Linked DNA regions of Homo sapiens. The protein of the gene in region 2 purifies or fractionates together with the protein of the main gene of each other region. This does not show direct contact. Each region holds a gene or a part of one and is shown on either strand. Other genes may lie near its edges.

Evidence for each region.
Region 1: the proteins of MORC4 (region 2) and HECW2 purify together in Homo sapiens (affinity purification with western blotting; 2 studies listed by BioGRID, with this or other methods). This does not show direct contact.

The regions. Positions count from the first base shown.
Region 1 is NC_000002.12:196,219,555-196,226,554, forward strand, and holds part of HECW2 (E3 ubiquitin-protein ligase HECW2), read right to left. Parts: intron 6,317-7,000; coding exon 6,218-6,316; intron 2,787-6,217; coding exon 2,657-2,786; intron 1,388-2,656; coding exon 1,241-1,387; intron 600-1,240; coding exon 485-599; intron 1-484. UniProt on the Homo sapiens protein: E3 ubiquitin-protein ligase that mediates ubiquitination of TP73. Acts to stabilize TP73 and enhance activation of transcription by TP73. Involved in the regulation of mitotic metaphase/anaphase transition.
Region 2 is NC_000023.11:106,997,175-107,005,116, forward strand, and holds the start of MORC4 (MORC family CW-type zinc finger protein 4), read right to left. Parts: upstream 3,039-7,942; 5' UTR 2,796-3,038; coding exon 2,694-2,795; intron 2,576-2,693; coding exon 2,503-2,575; intron 1-2,502. UniProt on the Homo sapiens protein: Histone methylation reader which binds to non-methylated (H3K4me0), monomethylated (H3K4me1), dimethylated (H3K4me2) and trimethylated (H3K4me3) 'Lys-4' on histone H3. The order of binding preference is H3K4me3 > H3K4me2 > H3K4me1 > H3K4me0.

The DNA of each region.
Region 1 (7,000 bases), on a different chromosome or scaffold from region 2:
TGTTGTATTTTGGGAACTGTGTCTTATTCCATTCAAGTGTTCTGACTATGAATTACAACTGATAAGGAGCGTAGTGAACAGTGGAAAAACTGTGCTGATTGGGAAGCTCAAAGGGTGTGCTTTTCTAAGTTTTAGAAACAAAATGGAATAGGTGGAGTTTGACCAGCTGGATGTTAGCTCCTTGGTGCTTCACTGACAACACGATAAAGTAATTAATTAGTGTTCTTACGGTCACATTTCCTCACCAACAATTAAGAGTTATGACATCCTTTGACGGTGTGTAAACAGTCCTTCTCCCATCTGACAGATGAGGTAATTAGGAAAAGAAGAGAATGTACCTTGCCCAAGGTCTCAAGGGAGCCTGCATCAGACCTATGATTAGAGTCCAAGTGCTGTTGCCTGTCCTATATTCAGTTGGCAAGCTGAACCATGCCTTCCTTTAATTTGAAATTTAAAATCTAGCCATCTATAAATCAAATTTCACCTCCTCTATATTCTGTGTTGTTTCTCCAATCACTTAGGTCTATTTCAGCTGTGCCTGCGATGACCAATTCCAGTTCTCTTGCATCAAAAACAGATACCAGCCTGGCATCCACCACCTGTGGAATAAAAAGAGTACAAGGCATGGCTTAGGAGCCTGGAGAAATATCAGCTATAATTAAGCCTTAGAAAAGGGGACACATGGAGTTTCAGGAATAATATGTGTGTACCTTGTGTTGGCACTTGAAAACCTGTAAAGCTCCCTACAAATATAAGGCATTCTTTAGTATAAGGTTGATGAGATTTGCCTTGACAGAATTTTTGTTTTATAATTGATTGCTGATTAATCTAGGTCCCGTCCACCTTTAGGAAACTATCTAGTGTTTCTACAGAAAAAGTCACATACAATACATGCCAACTCATTCTGATCTCAGATATAATTATTTCACATAGCAAGCATGAGATTTGATTACCCATATCTAAGCATAAGATGCATGGCTTAAATGTTACTAGTGGTCATTAAATCAACAAATGCTACTTGAATGCAGTCCATAACATTTATTTCAGTGATCTCTCGTAACAGTGAGTTAAGCTTCTTTTGGTGCTCTTGAAACATAAGGGAAAAAATACTGAACTTTTCGCATGGAAAGAGCAACAGTAAATACAGCAGAAATAGTCTACACATGTAAAGTACAATAAGATGGACTGTGGCATCATTGATATCAGACTGCAAACTCCTCCTACTGCTGATTGTCTTTACCTCATAGAAGCCACGCACTAAGCTCTCTGTTTGCTGTACAACACCCCTCTCAATCCTCCACTTCACCATCCTCTCGATGTACTCCTTCTTGTTCTTCTCTGTAACTGGGATATTGGCACCCCCTGGCTTTAATTCTCGTTCAGTTATCTGAGATTACAAAATAAAAAGAATGACTACAAAGCAATACTCTTAATGTTATAACAACATTACTAGCATTGAGCTGAAATCAGCCAGCTACCTGTCCCAGCCCTGCCCTAGGCACATCCCACAAGCTGGCAGTGAGGCCCCAGGCACTCACGGAGCACACACACTCAGGAAAAAATAGGCATTGAGGGGGTGCTTGAAAGCTTTGGTGATTAAAGTATATATATGTATTGCTGTTACTACAGGTTAAGTTTTAAAATGCCGATGAATCGGCTTCAGATACTAGCCTGCTACTATTTGAATGTTTGACAAAACCCATTTTCACAAATTTCTCAGAATTGACTATATCTAGCGTAAAGATTTACTTTAAAGCAGAATTACACTCAAGTGAATGTTAAATTGAGAACTTTTTCAAAACACATGGAATGCAGAAAAGCAGCTAAAGATTAATGCCTAAATAAGAATATTAATTATAAACTGGTATATAATTTCTGGAAGAAACGTTTTCCCTACTCTTCCACCAATTTTGAAAAAAAAATTAATATATTCTGTTCTTAAGTCTTCCCCAAAACATTGTTTATGTTCCCTTAGCTTCAAAAAAATCAATTTTGGTTCTCTTTATTTTTCTTTTCTTTTTTGAGACAGGGTCTCACTCTCGTCCCCCAGGCTAGAGTGCAGTGGCATGATCCAGGCTCACTGCAGCCTCAACCTCTCCAGCTCAGGTGACCCTCCCACCTTGGCCTCCTGAGTAGCTGGGACTACAGGTATGTGCCACCACACCTGGCTAATTTTTGTATTTTTTGTAGAGATAGGGTTTCACCATGTTGCCTAGGCTGGTCCTGAACTTCTAGGCTCAACTGATCCTCCTGCCTTGGCCTCCCAAAGTGCTGGGATTACAGGCATGAGCCACCGTGCCCAGCCACCATTCTATAAATGCCAATTAAAAAATTCTGTAGTGTGGACTTTAAAAAACTGCATTCTATATAAGGTAAATTCTCATATTTTGGGGGATATTTTAGTTGGAAATAAAAAGAAGATTGCTTACAACATAAACAGTTATCACCATCTGTAATTTACAGCATCTTAATCTGCAGCTGACATTAATTCTAATCTTTATAACTGCGGTTATTATAACTGTGTGTGATCCTGAGTTTAAATCACCCAATAAACCACGAATAAATAAGCATCTGATCTTAGCCATGGAGTTAATTCTTCACTCATCAATAGCCTTCAGTTACCACACTTAGGCGCCAGGTGTGCAGATACACACACCTGCCCAAATACTTCTTCGTTCACAGTGAACGTGAGGTCTAGGATGTCATGGATATCATTGTCTTTCATCCACTGCAGGCTCTGATGGAACTCTTCATCAAGGTATTCTAGGTCACTCAGGTCACATAGACTAAGATGACAAACAGACAGAAACAAATATGTAGGCATGGCTATTAGCAAAAACCCAGAGTCATAAGGAAAGAAACTAAGAATTAAAGAGAAGAATAAGAGCCACTACATAGGCAGTGATTTCTGGAATGTTCTTAGTCCAAGTCCAGTAATTAAACCAAACCAGTGAAATAATTCAGAAATTTGTTATAAAATTAGAAAGTCCTAAATATATAATATGCCACAGGAATCATTCAGCCTGCGTCTTCCTTTATAGACACAGAACTGGAGGTGCAAAGAATGAGTGCCATCTGCGCAGTCATCCATCATCAATGCCAGATCAGGAACTGGCACTCGGGTTGACAACTTGGATCCATTATTCTTTCTGGCCATATTATACTACCTTAAAATACTGTTATCTTAATTTGAAATTATTTATATATTTCTATATTTTAACTTTTTTTAATTGAAAGACATGATTTTTATTTTAATATTTATTTTATTTTATTTTTTATTAAAGACATGATTCATCTTCACATACATTCCCTTTTTCTTCATGGTTCTTATTCTGAAAATAGTAAGCCACAGAACCTGCCGTCAATCTGTATTTTTCCCCCACTTTTTTTAATTGTAGAGAAAGAATCGACATGAGGTAAGTTACTGTTCCATGGCCCAGTTGTACAGTGGTAGTCATTGATTTGCTATAGCTGTTTTGAAATTTCACTCCCCTTAACCCAATTTTAAGGGTCATTTTTTTTCAGTTCAATCTGAACATTCATTAGGCATCAAGCATGTACCAGACATCTGAATAGCTACTTGATGAATAGTCACTACCCCCAGGAGCTAATGGGCTAGTTGGGGAGCCAAGTACACAAACAGATAAGTTAATATAAAGCGATAAGTGATAACATAAGATTGGTAACACTTAAAATTCATGTACTTTTAAAATCTATGTCACACTTCAATTTAAGAAAAGATAAGGTAGGGATAGGGATTTAGGTGTCAGAGCACACATGAGGGGCCTTTTCTTTGACTGAGAGATTCAGGAAAAGCTTTTTGCAGAAGATGATGCCTACATTAAATCTTTCAGGATGTTTAAAAGCAAGAGACGTAAAAAGGAATACATGAAGGAGGAGAAGGGGAAAGAGAAAGGAGAAAGAGAGAATAACATGAACAAAATACAAGGCATGGATGTGTACAGGAAACTCCAAGCATATCAGCAGTTTGAGAGAGTTAACCTTAAGACAGAATTTCTAGAGAATGAGGCCAGCAAGGGAGCAGGCCTTAATATCATCCTAAGGAGATTGGTGATTCAGAACTACCAAAAGATTTTAAGACAGGGCATGACATGATCAGACGTGAAATGTGAATTATAAACAGCTCCTCTGGAAGTCCCAGTGTGAAGGATTATTTAAAATGGGGTGGGATGAGGGGTGGTTATCATTAGAGGGTAGAGACCAATGAATAGACCACTACAGTAATATGGCCAAAATAAGATAAGGGCTCTAACTAGGGCTGTGCTATTAAGGTTGGAGAGAAGAAGATGAATTTGAAAATCATTTAGGAGGCAAACATGTAGCAATCAGGAAATGGTTTTATTGGGGGAGTATAAAGAAGGATATCTAAAACAGGGGTGACAAACGAACTCATGTCAAAACTAACTGTAATTAATTGCTGGGCTTGAGCACTATAAGTTAAAAAGATTTCTGAGGCCACAGTGAGTTCAGTGGGAAAAAGTACCACAGGTGATTTGTGAACTCTACCCTGGGAATGATGGGGTAGAGTAGAGATGGGGAAGAGTAGAACATGTACCGTGTGTATTTGTCATCGCTGTTTAAGGGTGACTCCCAATTTCTGACCAGAGTGGCCTGAGAATAGTGGCACTATTAACTGTAACTGGGCATATGGGAGAAGGTATACTTTTACGTAGGGAAACTTGATGAGCTTAGTCTTAACCATGTTGATTCTGAGATCCTTGTAAGACATCCGAGTGGAGATATTTGGTGGACTGTTGACCATGTGAGGCTACACCTTAAGGGAGATCATGACTGAGAGTACAGATTTGGGAGTCAGAGGAGATAAGACAGGAGAAGAAATTCCCCCATGAGAGCACACTGAGTGAGAAAACGAGGGGCCTGGTGATAGAAGCTTCAGGTACACCAAGACTTAAGGGCAAATCAGAAGAGGGACTCATGAAGGGACAGAAAAGTTAAAAAAAAGAACCCGCAAAGTACAGTGTCATAGATGCCAGCTCTGAAGGAAAGACACAGGAATAAATGGTGGCGGGTGTGGGTGGTGCACAGTGTCAGAAGCAGCAGCATGATCCAATAAGATACGGACTAATCAGTATTCTTTAAATGCCTCCACAGGTTTTCTGGTGGGAAAGAAACCAGGCTGAAGTGTGCTTAGGGTGTGAATTTGAGGTAAGTGTAGACAGTCAGTATAGACTAGTTTTTCAGGAAGCTTAAATGAGAAGATAAGAGATAAGGCAATGAAATGGGAAGATGCAAAGTGGGCCACAAAGAACCAAAGAGACAGAAAACGGCACCTGTTCCCCAGTGCTACAGCTGTGAAGACACTGAAAGAGAAGAAGGCAAAAGTCTTTCTACTGACCCTCCCAAGGGCCCACAAGAAGCATTTTGTTTGCTTTCATTTGAGGTCTAGGCTTCCATTTTACAGTAAGCAAGTGCGTGGCCTCAGTTAGGGTATGAGCTGGACAGAGCCAAGTGATAATTCAGTGCATTCTCATCGCAAATTTGAGCTACTATCCCACAGACAGTTGTCTTCTGTTCAGCCTTGTAAATGGCTGCTGATTATAGGACAGAAACAATTAGCCCTACATTTTACAATAACTGCAATCTTTCATTAACAATGAAGAAAAAGTTCTGTGAATGCTGAATTTTCATTTTCCATAATAAATTACTAAGGGCATAGAGAAAGTTTAAGAAACATATGGCACTGTCCACCCTTGACAAACAAATAAAAAACAAAACCAAAACAAAGGAAAATGAAGATTTGAACGAGGAGTAAGCATTTGAAAATATGCATCAAGCCAAATATAAAATGTGTCTCATAAAGGAGAGGGGGGCTGTGAGTCACTAAGACTAACCCACAACAATTCTATTAATAATCTGCATTAATACCACAGGAATCCCAGGGCTGTGTTTGAAGTACAATTGTTTTAAAGAAACACATGCTGCAACAAATGAGAATAAATTTTGGGGGGTAGAGCAAAACTAAAAATCTGGGGGCTAAATAGGTCAGAGGCAGGAAAAACACAGTAATCATATTTGAAATTGCATTAGTTTCAGAAATCTAAACCACTATTAGGTTTAATAACAACAAATTTGAGATTGTGAACAGATAAACAATGACTTTGACAGAAGAATTTTTTCAAAAAAGTAAATACTGCATTTTACATGCTAATTATGCAGGCAATAAAAATATTCTTACATTCTGAGAAGAGCCTTATAAAAGGGCCGTGTGAAGAAGGCATCCAACAAATACTGGTGTATTAGTGCAAGACCAAGGATCCTACCACTGAATCGGAACCTGTGAAGGAAACACATGAGATGGCTTACATGTCATGGAGCAGTTTCTAGGTGGTTCCATATGCTTTCTAGAATGCCTTCCAGCGCTAACCATCTAAATTTTTCCAATATTAATTGCCTACTAGGTAGTGAGAATTTGTAGGCACCATGGGCTGTGTCTTCATCAGGCCAGTGGTACAGTTTGTATACTTGTCCCTGCCCAAATGTCATGTTGAATTGCAATCCCCATTGCTGGGGGTGGGGCCTGGTGGGAGGTGTTTGGATCATGGAGGCTGATCCCTTATGGCTTGGTGCTATCTTCATGATAGTGAGTTCTCATGAAATCTGGTCATATAAAAGTGTGGCACCTCCCTCCAACACACACACACACTCTCTCTCTCTCTCCCTCCTGCTTTTGTCATATGATGTGCCTGCTTCCCCTTTGCCTTCCACCATGATTGAAAAAGCTCCCTGAGACCATCCCCAAAGCCCAGTGATTTGGGTGCTATGCTTCCTGTACAGCCTGCAGAATCATGAGCCAATTAAACTTCTTTTCTTTATAAATTACCAGTCTCAGGTATTTCTTTATAGCAATGCAAGAATGGGCTAAAACAGCCAGTAATTCATACCTACTTGTTGAAGAATCAGTTTCACTCATATTTAGAGACCCTGCTCCACCTTCACTGCATATCAACAATGTAGCACC
Region 2 (7,942 bases):
CCACAAATTTGAAATTTAAGTAATTTTCTTATCCCTCCCTCTCCTTTACCCTATGCATCCCTAGACGTTCTCATATCCTATTTACTCTATTTCCATTGTCAGTCTCTTACAGAGTTTATTTCCTCTCATCTGGATTATTGCAATAACCTCCTGTCATATAAATCCGTATCTCTCTCCTTCAATTGTATACACTGCTGCAAGACTGACTTTCCTGAAGCACAGCTCTGATCATGACATTCCCCTGCTCAGAAAACTTCAGGCTAAAAAGCCAGATATTGGAGCCTCCCAATCACATCCTGATCCCAGATGACCTTTTTAACCTCATCCTTACTTAGTATCTGGCGTAAAAAGGCCTGTGTTTGAGTCCTGGATCTGCTACTTAGTATATATGTAACCTTGGAAAAGTCAACTAAATTTTCTGAACCTCTTTTTCTTCATCTGCAGGATGAAAATAAATGTTTACCTCAAATGGTAATGTTAAAAAGTTATTTGTGAAAGCTGCTTGTAAACTTTTTAAGTACCTATCGTTTTTACTATTTGTGAACCCCATGCTCTAATTAAACTCCACTCAATATTCTTCATGCCTTTGTTCAAGCAGTTGTTCCTTTTGCCTGGAATTCCTCCCCGCCCATATCCACATGTCCCAATCCTTCAAATCTCAGCTTAAATGTCACCTCCTCCACAAAGCCTTTCCTAACCTTCCTCTTCCTGATAAACTGGAAGCCATTCCTCCTTCCTCTGAACTCCCACAGCACTTGTTTTTATCTTTGTTTATATATCGATTTCCATTTTGTTGTTAGACAAAGCATAAACCTTCTGTACATGTTTTATCTCCCCTACTAGAAGAGTGAATCTGTGTTGTATTCATTTTTGTGCCTACCACAGTGGCCTTGCGCACAGTGGGTGCTCAATAAATATTTACCAAATGAATGATTCACTAGAAAATTAATGCTTAAGTGGAGAAAATGATTGAAGGAAAACCTAAAATGAAAGCTTTGGATTGCCAGTTAACACTTTGCTCTCTCTTTTCCCTATTATTAATATTTTCACAAATAGTTGTTATTTGGTCTTAAAATCTATGTTTGTATACATGTATGCATGCATGTGTGTGCATAATACATACACATACTCGCGCTCATACTGGACGTCTTAGATCCGGCTTAGGTTCTTTAAGGTAATGCTTATGGCCAAAATCACAAATATCCAAAATTACAAATTGGAAACTCATTAAATCACCTGGAAAGTACAGTAAGCACAGCACAGGTATATCACGTTCTGCACCGTGCCAACCATGAGAGAACAATACATTTCGCTTTCCCATCCCCCACTATGTAAATCACTACTTTTTGCTCCCTTGTAGTCTTTCTTGTAAATTACATACTTAACTTGGATTGTATTCCATTCTGCAGAGGTTCAGTGCACAGCCCCAAGGCACAGTACCAAACCTCAAAGATACAGTCCCTCTGCTCTAGGGTTCCAAACGTATCAATTCCACTTTTTGCCTTTCACCTTCTAATTAAATTACACATATTGTAAAGCATTCCGTGTTATGGTTAATCATCAAAGGTCTCTATCATTCTTATCACCCTTCCAAGTAAGTCCCCTGCTACCCATTGACTTCTTACCCAAGATAACTCTCATGGCATGGCCACAGCGACTGCTTAAGTAGAGACCGGGGTTCATTTGGGGAGCTTTGAAAACATTTTCAAGAGTTTGTTCTGTGCAACCTTGCCCATAAACACTTCTTCCTTCTTTCGATTTTCAAAGCATGTATAATGCGCCCTGTATGCTGCTGCGTTTTGTGCAGGACTGCGTTTCTTCTTTGCTTTCCACACAGTAGCACACTACTGCAAAAACTGGTGTAATTGGCTTGAAGGGATCAACTGAAAACACTTTAAAAGCAAACACCGGTGGAGCGAGAGGTTAAGTCCTCAATATTCATTCCAGCGGTGTGAGGGCGCTCGTGGACCACGGACCCAGCCCTCCGCAGTAGCAGGGAGCCAAATGCACTCGTGTCATCTCTTAAGAGATGTCCCATCATTCCTAACTTTTCTTGTCTCAAAAGTTAAGGAACTCCGCTTTCCAGACCTTTCCCCAGGACCCGCCTCGGTCCTCTACGCCCCTTTGCTAGCTAGGCATCCTCCGTCGGTCGCCAGCCCCTGCGGACCCAGCTGCCTCAGGGCCCGAGGTTTTTATGCATCTCCTTTTGATTACTAACTAAGCTATCCTAAAGTGCCCGAACGTCACGAGCGCGAGAGAAAAACCACACTGGTGTCTTTAACGCTTCAGACACACCTCGTTTCCTCCGTTTTATGAGCGGAACCTAGTTCCTGGCGAGAGAGCCATCCCCCTCCTCCGCCTGCGGAGCCGGGGCCGGTTCCGAGGCCCCCACCCCAGCCCCGGCCCGCCCCGCGCGGCTCTGCGCATTCCTCTCGCGTCCGCGGCACCACGCTGGCACCACTGCCTCGGGCGAACACGGCCGGGCCCGCCCTCGCCACTCACCTAGCAGCTCCGCGATGGCACTGAAGGGTCGCGTGTGGCTGCTGGAGTTGCTCTGGAGGTAGCGGGGGCTCATCTGGGGGCGAGAGAAGGTCCCGACCCGCGTGAGGCCTCGGCCCGCCGGGCCCTCCCCGCGCGCCCCCCGCAGCCCAGGGGCCCGCGCGCGCGTCCGCCCCCTCGGGCCCCGGACCTACCGTGCTCAGGCGGATCCCGAAGGCCTGCGGGCCGCCGCCGGGCCGGGCCAGCCCGCAGCCCGGCGCGCCAGGGCCGGCGGGGGCCCCTCGGTACAGGAGCATTTTTTTGGCCGCCACGGTACCCGTCTGCTGCCGCCGGACCCCTGGCCCGGCGGTCCGGGACTAGCCCTCGCTCACTTCCACTCGCAGCTGGCGGCGACCGTCCGGGACCGGCCCTCCCTCGCTCCCACTCGCAGCTGGCGGAGGCGGAGCGCGCTCCAGCCACCTGTCCCGGGCGGGAGGGGTGAGGCCGGCTGAGGCAAGCGGCGGCTCCGCCCTGTCAGCACCTCTACCGACCCGGCGACTGCCCGGGCTGCCTCTGGGCCGTACAGAAATATGGCGACCTCCTGACAGCCGCTCCTTGATCCCCGCCCCTAATTAATTATTGGCGTATGCCATAGGCCAGGCCGCCGAGCGGGAAAGCGCGGGGGGCGGGGGTGGCGCGTGGGGAGGGGCGTGAATGAAGCAAGAGGAGGGAGAGCATGTATGGGATTTCTGGAACCTAGTCCCGCTTAGGCTGCATGACTAACAGGCAAGATAAGACAAGTCTTTCAAGTTCTAAAGACTACAGTGTTGCTATCTGGGAAGATAGCAAGCTCGCCTGATGGGAAAACATTCTACCTACTCTGCCTCAAATGCCTCCAGAAGCACCCAGAACTTTCTGGAAGGCAATTAGCAAACTATCTCCAAAGTCTTGCTAGCATGCAGGGACGGTGTTTCTAAAAGGAGAAATTGGATTCACTTAAATACCGCCAAGTAGGGGATTGGTCGAGTTATGAAGTATGCATAAAATGAAATACCATCCAGTTCTTGAAGGCCATGTTTGTAGATAAGTATGTGTTGATGTAGAAAAATATTCATGAAGGAATGAAGAAAACAAGGAGTTACAACATATTGTGGAACGCATGATGCCTTTTCTATTGGAAAAACAAATATATATGTATACATATATACATATATATATATGCATGCATACACACATATACACATACATACATACATATATATATACACACACACACACACAACGAAAACCACTTGATATACACCAAGATGATATCTCTGGGTCTGGAACTAGACACTTTTTCCTTTTTTCTTACCTGTGTTTTCTAATATACTATAAATATACACTGATAATAGAAAAACAGATTCATTAAAAACATATGTAATGTTCTATGGCATGAATGAACTATAATTTATTTGACCATTCCTTTATGGTAATTTAGGTTGTCCTCTTTTTTTAATTTTGACAATACAAAAAATGCTCCTTCACACACTCGTGTACAGGTCATTAATTTCTGATACTGTTATCTCCACAGAATGAATTCCAAAAGATGAGACTGCTGCATCTAATAGCATGTGCATGGTTTAATCTTAATAAATACTGTAAGATAGGCAATTTGCCCTCCCAGCAACAATCAGTGCTCTTTTGTCATGTTCATAGCACTAGATGGTCCCAATCTTTTAACTTTTTGATAGTCTTTTCAATAAAAAATAGTATCTCCTTATTGTTTTAATTTGCATTTTCCTGACTACCAGTAAGGCTGAATATCTTTTCAAATGTTTAGTATACATTTGCATCTCCTCTTCTACAAATGCCTGTTTATGTCCTTTGAGCATCATTTTTTACCCCCATTGGGTGCTTTACATTTGTCTGTTTTTTAGTTATCTTTTCTTCAATTTTTTAAAATACACAAAAGTACAGAAAACAATATAATGAATCCCATGTACTTATTACTCAGATGCAGTAATTATCAAGACTGCCACACCTGCTGCAATGGACTGAACATTTGTGCCCCGCCAAAATTTGTATGTTGAAATCCTAACTCCCAATATGATGGTATTAGGTATTGGGATTAGGAGTTGGGGCCTTTGCCAAGTAATTAGGTCATAAGGGTGGAACCCTCATGATGGGATTAGTGCCTCATAAAAAGGACCCCAGAAAGCTCTCTCATCCTCTTTCTTCCATGAGGACTCAAGAAAGGGTCTGAATTCTGCAACCCAGAAGAGAGACCGTACCAGAACCTGATCATCTGCTGTTAATACGCAACCTAGTCTATGGTACTTTGTTAACAGCAGCCAGATCTGACTAAGGCACTTGTTTTCTATATCCCTTTTCTTCTTTTTCTTTTTCTTTTCTTTTTTTTTTTTTTCCATTTCTGTAAGCTGTGAGCATTTCAGGGCAAATCTCAAACATCATGCCATTTTATTTTACATACTTCAGTGTTCTTTAGAAACATGGACATTTTCTAACAAACATAACCACCATGCCACTTTTATACCAAACAAAATTTATACTAATTCTTTGTTGTCTTCTAATACCCAGACTTTTTTTTTTTTTTTTTTTTTTTTGAGACAGGGCCTTGCTGTGTCACCCAGGCTTTAGTGCAGTGGTACGATCTTGGCTCACTGCAGCCTTGACCTCCTGGGACCAAGCAATCCTCCCAACTCAGCTTCCTGAGTAGCTGGGGCTACAGGCACATGCCATCACACCCAGGTCATTTTTTTACTTTTTATATTTTCTAGAGACGAGGTTTTGCCACGTTGCCCAGGCTGGTCTCAAGCTCCTGGGCTCATGCAATCTACCTGATTTGGCCTCCCAAAGTGCTGGGATTACAGGCGCAAGCCACTTTGCTTGGCCCAGTCCATATTCAGATTTCCCCCAATTGTCTCGGAAATGTCTGCTTACAGTTGGTTTGTTTAAATCTAGACTCCAAGTGCACACATTGCACGTGGTTATGTGTCTTAAATCCATTTCAATCTAAAAGTCTCCCCTCTCTTTTTTTTTTATTCATGTTATTGATTTTTTTTTTTTTTTTTTTTGTAGAGATGGGTTCTCCCCATGTTGCCCAGGCTGCTCTTGGACTCCTGGGCTCAAGTGATCCTCCCACCTCGGCCTCCCAAAGTGCTGGGATTACACGTGTGAGCCATCATGCCCAACCCCTTGAGTTGTTGAAGAAACCAAGACAGTTGGACTGTTGAATGCCCTACATTTTCATTTGTCTGTTTGCTTCTTCATGTTACTTAACTTGCTCCTCTTGTTACAGGAAAAAGTGTAACTTAACTATAAACCATAAATTGTCTCTAGAGTCTTAGAGTCTAGTACAATGTTTTCTAAATAGGAATGCTCATAGATGGTGCTGTATAGTTCCCATTGCATCACATCAGGGAATACATACTGTGCAACACTTAGACATGTTCAGATTCATTGGTGACTTCAGGGAGAGGCAGCCTGAAGCTTCCACTATAAATTTCTCCACCATCCTTTTACTTCATGGTTTCATTGTCTGAAAAAAATATGTTATTAGGACTGCAAAATTATGATAGTCAATCTCATAATTTCTTCTAATTTATTAACTGGATCATTCTGTATAGAACTTACCTTCATCAACCATGGCTATTTGGCTAATCTGAAATACAATTTATATAGGAAGGACATGATAAATGCTTAACTCTTTACTTTTAATTGGCAATTTTTAATGTAAAGAGATGATGCCTGTGATGGATACTGTGATGCGTCAGCCCACCTCTCATTTCAATAAAAGACTTGTTGGCTGAGCTGCTGGGAGAAATGTTGACAGACTGCCTTCAGCTGTTAGCCCTTCAGGGATTGCTTCAGGTAATCTCTGCCTTACCCAAGGTCACAGACTTTTCTGGGACAGCCTACAGTAACTGACCAAAGAGGGGGTATAAAGACCTGACTGTCTCAACCCAATTTGGGACAATTGGGAAGGGTCATTCTAACTCCAATTCTCTCTGTGGGGTTGGCTCTCTGCTATTGAGCCTGCATTGTAGCTCAGTGTTCCCCTCTGCCCACACCTACTTCATTGCACAGATCCTAATCTAAGAATACCTCTTAATAAGCACCCTGCACACAAAGCTCTTCCTTGGAATCTGCCTCCTGGGGAACTCAAACTGTAACACTTGAAATTGGGAGTGATCCAAGAAAGTCGGGACTATGATGATATTTGGTAAAAGGCAAAAGATTTATACGATCCGAAGAGAAACCAGAGCATTTGGATGATATTTGGGAGCTAAATCACTTACTGCCCAGTTGGCAATGAGGACCATACCACAGAGTGGATGGAGCACAGATAGCCCCCTGCCACAAGGCAGCAGTCCTATTATTGTTAAAACTTCCACCAGGTGTGAATTGGGATGGTAAAAGGGAACGTATAATCTTCTGTGATGTTTCAAGTGTTTGAGAAATATGGAGGAAGTAGTAGCTATAAAACCAATGGAAGGCCAAGGTAGGAGGATCACTTGAGCCCAGGAGTTCAAGGCTGCAGTGAGTTATGATCATGCCACTGTACTCCAGCCTGGGCAACAGAGCGAGCCCCTGACTCTGAAACAAAACAAAACAACAACAAAAAGAACCAATGGAATTTAGTGGTTATTGAGGTCTAAAAAGGAGTAAATTCCCAATGGAGAAATAGACACACATTTGCTATGTCAAAATCGGGATGCTGCCCGGGAAAGAATGAGACCCTGACACATGGTTTGGGGCTATCTAGATTGATGCTACCAAAATCTTGAATCCTTAGATTTCCCTGAACCAGCTGAGCCCATAGAACTGGTGCAATTTCCCTATTGGTAGTACCCACGCCCGCCCCATCCTCTTGCTTGCAGACATGCAAAGCTTCTCCCCAACAAGACAACATGTGCTTTCCCCTCCCCTCCTTGCCATTAGGCCTATAACAAGGGCTAAGGCACAGCATGGACATGTGAGGCCTGATCAGGGAGAAGAGCGATTATACGTCAAAAAGCTGCAAGATACCCAGCGTGGATTGGCAGGAACTGGAAGGGTTCACATGGAATTGAATTCTGAGACTGCTTGATCAAGAGAGCTAGTCTATAAGGTGGGATAACAGGCAGTTTATCAATTTTGGAGCACTACTCTGGAATATAGGATTTAACACTCTGGCAAGGACCACATGAGGTAGAATAGTCTCACAATTAGATGACTCCTTGAAGTACAGAAAAAGTGATGACCCATGCTAAGTGAGGTTGAAATGCCAGCATTGCTGTGACAATAGTAGAAGAAAGGATTAAAAGATTCAGAAGTGAGCCTACTGTAGTGGATAGATCAAACAAGCCTGGAAAACTCAAACAGAAAAACCCAGGATACACCATTTATCAAGGTGATAAGGAATGTGCTAACAAGAGGGGCACCAGCACCACTGAGAAATTCACTGGTGGCTCTCCTCTGT